Regions from separate parts of the Homo sapiens genome. Here region 2 is linked to region 1. A link means that fine-mapping ties the variant in region 1 to the expression of a gene that starts in the linked region. Tissue or cell type: whole blood. Region 1 holds a variant in brackets; the other region holds the start of a gene. All regions are shown on one strand. Distances are between the middles of the regions.

Region 1 (2,759 bases):
CATAGTGAGACCTTGTCTCCAAAAAAAAAAAAAAATTAAAAATAATAGTAGGCTGGGTGTGGTGGCTCATGCCTATATTCCCAGCACTTTGGGAGACCAAGGCAGGTGGACCACTTGGAGTTCGACACCAGCCTGGCCAACATGGTGAAACCTCAACTGTACTAAAAAAAATACAAAAATTAGCCAGGTATGGTGACATGCACCTGTAGTCCCAGTTACTTGGGAGGCTGAGGAATAAGAATCACTTGAACCCGGGAGGCAGAGCTGCAGTGGGCCAAGACGGCGCCACTGCACTGCAGCCTGGGTGACAAAGCGAGACCCTGTCTCAAAAATAATACTACTACTAATTAGCCAGGCATAGTGGCGCATACCTGTAGTCCCAGGGAGACTGAGGTGGGAGAATCACTTGAGCCCAGGAGGTTAAGGCTGCAGTGAGCTCTGATAACACCATTGCACTCCAGCCTGGGCAACAGGATGAGACCCTGTCTGGAAAAAAAAAATACGGAAATGGGAGACGGAAGGGTAGGTCAGAGAGAGGGATGATGGATGAAATAACTGCAAATATTCACAATAGGAGAGGGATGACCCCACCATATGGAATGCTTCACAAATTTGTGTTTACCCTTGCACAGGGGCCATTCTAATCATTCCAATTTTAGTGTATGTACTATAGAAGTGAGCGAGCAGTTAACTTTTTTCTTTTCATGCCTGGATGAATCTATTTTCTGGCTGGCACCATCATTTCTACCAAGACCAAAGAATTTCTTGTTCCCTCCTCACCCTGCAGTACCCAGTGCTATGATTAATTCTCTTGAGTAAACACTTGGATACTACTGTGGCTATTTCTGTAGTATAAATTTCTCAAAATGGGATTGGTGAGTTACAGGGAACATGAGATTTATTTTTGCCTTAAAACAGCAAAAACTTATTGTACAATTCTGGAGACCGGAAGTTAGACACCATCTCACCAAGCTAATACTAGAGTGTTGGCAATGGCTGGGCACAGTGGTTCACTCCTGTAATCCCAGCACTTTGAGAGGCTGAGGCAGGAGGATCACTTGAGGCCAAGACTTTGAGACCAGCCTGGGCAACAGAGTGAGACCCCATCTCTAAAAAAAAAAAAAAAAAAAAAAACACACAATTAAAAAAAATTTTTTTAGCTGGGTGTGGTAGTGCACACCTGTAGTCCCAGCTACTTGGAAGGCTGAGGCAGGAGGATCACTTGAGTCCAGGAGGTTGAGGCTACAGTGAGCCAAGATCTCACGACTGCACTCCAGCCTGGGCAACAGGGCGAGACTCCATCT[C/CA]AAAAAAAAAAAAAAAAAGTGTTGGCAGGGCTGCATTCCTTCTGTAAACACTAGGGGGAAAATTGTTCTGTAGCTCATGGCCCCTTCCCCCATGTGGTGGCTCACACCTGTAAGCCCAGCACTTTGGGAGGCAAAGGCGGGCGGACTGCTTGAGCCCAAGAGTTCAAGACCAGCCTGGGCAACATAGCAAGACCATGTCTCTACTTTTTTTCGATAAAATTTTTTTTAAAAAATTTTAAAAACCAATCAGCCAATTTTCCCCAAGTTAATCTATAAAGTAAATGAAATGCAAATAAAATATACCACATTTCAGCCGGGTGCAGTGGTTCACTCCTGTAATTCCAGCACTTTGGGAGGCCAAGGCAGGGAGATTGCTTGAGCCCAGGAATTCAAGACCAGCTTGGGCAACATGGTGAAACTCCATCTCTAGTAAAAATACAAAAATTAGCCAGGTGTGGTGGTGCACGCCTGTTGTCCCAACTACTCGGGAGGCTGAGGCAGGAGGATCACCTGAGCCTTGGGAGGCAGAGGCTGCAGTGAGCCATGATCGTGCCAGCCGGAGCAACAGAGTGAGACCCTGTCTCAGAAAAATAAAAAGAAGCACATTTTATATGATCCAACAAAAAGATTCTAAAATGCATGTGGAAAAGTCCAAGAATTGCTAAGACAATTTGGAAAAAACGACAAGTAGGGAAGAATTGTCATATTGTAAATAAAAACACTGTTAAGTTATATAATATTAAAATAGTGTGGTGGCTGGGCACGGTGGCTCATGTGTATAATCCCAGCACTTTGGGAGGCCGAGGCGGGTGGATCACCTGAGGTTGGAGTTCAAGACTAGCCTGGCCAACATGGTGAAAGCCCGTCTCTACTAAAAATACAAAAAAAAAAAAAAATTAGCCGGGTATAGTGGCACACGCCTGTAATCCCAGCTACTCGGGAGGCTGAGACAAGAGAATCACTTGAACCCAGAAGGCAGAGATTGCAGTGAGCTGAGATCATGCCACTGCACTCCAGCCTGGGTGACAGAGTGAGACTCCATCTCAAAAAAATAAAATATTGTGGTATTGGCACAGGAGTGGACAACTAGGTCAATCTAGGAACAGACCTTTTGGAACTTGATATACATGAAATGACTCAACCAATCAGTGAAGACAGGGTGGATGTTCACTGAATATTGGAGAAAACTGAACTCCCCCATACAAAAGAAAACAGATTTCCACTTTACACACACTCAAAATTAAATTCCAGATTAAATACTAGGATATTTTTAATGATTTATTAAATTTTTTTTTGGTAGAGACAGGGTCTCAATATGTTGCTCAGCCTAGTGTCAAACTCCTAGCCTCAAGCAATCCTCCCTTCTCTACTTCTCAAATTGCTGGGATTACAGGCTGAGCCACCACACCCAGCCTGATATTTATTTTTAAATATCAGGAAAATGTAAAACTTTGT
Region 2 (2,621 bases), 76 kb before region 1:
GACCCCAGCAAGCGAGAATAATCCTTACTCCAAGACAAACACAGACCTGCAAAAAATGAACATTCAGGGAAGGCTCCCAGGCAGGACCCAGTGGGCCCACACGCACCCATGTCAGTGCATGCAGTGCCTGGAATCTTACAGGAAGTGACCGAGCTGAACGTGACCAGCTGTGAAGATTCAGAGACTTCTGAGCCCCGATCTTGGCCACTCACGGCCCTTGGGTAGAATGTGTGGGGTGTCCACTCAGCCACTTGTTAGAGGAGGTGGCATGATCTGGGCCTCAGTGCCACGACCAACAGCGACTTCCAAGGGGAACATGGAAAGAACAGAGGAAAAAAACCAGAGTTGAGGCTGGGGAGAGTTATGGTGCCAGTGGTCTCACCCAGCACTGAGTGCAAAGTTCTCCAGCACCACTTCAGGTAGAAGCTCCTCTGGACCTTGCCTAAGAACTCCGTTCGTCCGGGAGGACGCAGGCCCACCTGCTCTAACATGAACGCGTCTGAATTCAGCGGAGGACACCCAGGAGCCCGGTTATTCTCCTGCCAGCGTCCTCCCCTGATGTGTCCCTGACCCCGTGCTCTGACGTACTCAGCCATGTACTCACTCTCCTCTCCCAGGCCCCCATACCTGAGATCACCATGGCCTGATATGGGGTAGACTACAAGCCTACCGTGCCTCAGCCATGTGCAGGGCGACCTGTCCCTGGCATCCACACCTGTGGCCCATACGTCGCCCGCATTGTGGGGCGCCGAAAACCCAACACAACTGAAACACAACTGCTGACCTTCCCCCTAAGCCGCCTCTAAACGAGGTCCCTCGGCCCCTGGTCCCAGCCGCTCTTTGAAGACTTGCCTGATGACAGGCATGTACCATGTTTTTGGCTGGGACATTTTTCTGAGCCTTGCTCCGGGCTCCGTAAAGCGGACACGGTGCCAGGGAGAGAATTTCGGGGCGGTTGCGGGCACAGGCGGGCTTCTGCGGAGGCCCTGGCGAACGCCCCCGCGCGGCGCGGTCCGATGGCCCCATGGGGCCGCCCCTCCACTGTGAGGTCACCGGGGTTCAGCAACATTCACTGCGGCTAGGACGCGTACAGGTCACTGAGGCAGAACTTCCCGATTCTCGCGCCTTCGTTCGTTTCTGCGGACCAGCGGAGACTCCTCCACACCGCCCACCGCCCAATGATCCCACTGCCGCAAACCGCCCCAAAGCCAGCGCCGAAAGCCGACGCCGGAAGCCCCGCCCCACGCAGGGCCCGCCCGAACGTTCCCGTTCCTGGGCCGCCATTGGCCAAGTCTGAACGGCCCCACGTCGAGGCTCCTTATGGGAAATGTAGTTCACGTCCCGCTTCAGGAGCTAGCGGCGCCCTCCCTTATCGCCTTGGCAACGACCCAGCCGCGCCGCGAGGAGAGCCGGGAATGGAGGTCGTGGCGTGAGGGGCGCCGAGCGAGGGGAGGCGCGGGCCACGGGAGTTCCGGGAGTTCCGGCGTTGCCCGGCAGTCCGCAGTCCTCGGCGGGAAGGCTGTCCCGGCGCCTCAGGCAGCTCTGCGTGGGCCGGGGTGACTTCCTCGCGATCCCCTGCGCGAGGTGAAGGGCAGGGACCTTTGCCGCGCCTTCCACGCGCCGTGCCCCACCGGCGAGTGGCTCCATCTTCCTCAGACTTATCGCTCGCGGACAGGCGCCGTGGGTCTCCCGGGCCTCCGTACCGTCCTCCTTCCCAGCGGCTCCGGGAAGCGGTTCCCTGTCTTCGGACGCATTTCACCCGCGCGGGGAGAGCTTCCCGGGAAGGTTCCACGGCGGCCGAGGGTTTCCGCGCCCGGGACGCGTTTCGGCTGAGGCCGTGGGTCCAGTCCACGGGTTCTGCCCGCACGGTCCAATGGCCGGGGAGGCGGAGGTGAGCAGAGGATGCCTCCGAGGAATGAGGGGGCCCACCAGGTGGGGGGCGGCGTGTGCCAGGGCAGAGTTGGAGGAGGGCAGGAGATCTGCGTATGATTCCAGGGGGAGGTCTTTGATGCACGGCTGGGGCATGCCCTTGGCAGTGGGAGCCATTGGAGATGTGCCGCAGGACTGGGACAGGATGGGGTCGTAGTTGCTGTGCCAGGCCCTCTGGAGACGCATGTGCAGAACGGCGTGTGGAAGGCCAGGCAATTGCCTATAGGGTAAACTGGGGACGTTGTGCTGGGGGTGTACAGTTTTAGGCATTCTGTTGTCCAGTTTTGTGCCTGTTGAGCAGGAGGCAAACTGGACCCTGGGACCAGGTACTTGAGACCTAAGGGAGAAGGATGAGCATAGGTTTGGTTGCGTCTGAGAGGTATGATCTCTGGGACTGGAATTGGCAGGCAGGAGATAGAGTGGAGCCTGTGCCCTTGGCCCTGCACATAGATGGCATCAGTCTGGTCACCAACCTGATGTCGCTTTGGGCTGGACACAGTTTCCAGTAGTAACACCAGAAGCATCAATAACACCAGCAGCTCTGATATTCCTCTGGGATAGGAGAAGGAAGGTATAAGGGTATGTGTAGGGAGTAAGGTGGGGAAGAGTTTAGAGCTCATAGGGAAAGATAATGTCAGGGGGAGATGTGATAGGACCCTGAGATACAGGTCAAGGGCCTGAATGTGTCCATC

What was found. PIP is the estimated chance that this variant, and not a neighbour inherited with it, causes the effect.
Region 2: ZNF584 starts here. The variant in region 1 is fine-mapped to the expression of ZNF584 in whole blood (INTERVAL, PIP above 0.99).

Annotation. Positions count from the first base shown.
Region 1 is chr19:58,483,161-58,485,919 of GRCh38, forward strand. It overlaps LOC112268251 (a long non-coding RNA gene), which reads right to left and starts at 1,064. Exons shown (of 3, transcript XR_007067366.1): 1 at 372-1,064. It also overlaps a transcript of ZNF446 not described here and the pseudogene RNU6-1337P. The variant C/CA (reference allele first, on the strand shown) is at 1,305.
Region 2 is chr19:58,407,275-58,409,895 of GRCh38, forward strand. ZNF584 (zinc finger protein 584) reads left to right here and starts at 1,375. Exons shown (of 4, transcript NM_173548.3): 1 at 1,375-1,891. The coding sequence starts at 1,874. It overlaps ZNF584-DT (ZNF584 divergent transcript), which reads right to left and starts at 1,189. Exons shown (of 1, transcript NR_186337.1): 1 at 1-1,189. RefSeq lists enhancers at 534-583, 562-1,207, 1,134-1,183 and a silencer at 1,444-1,503.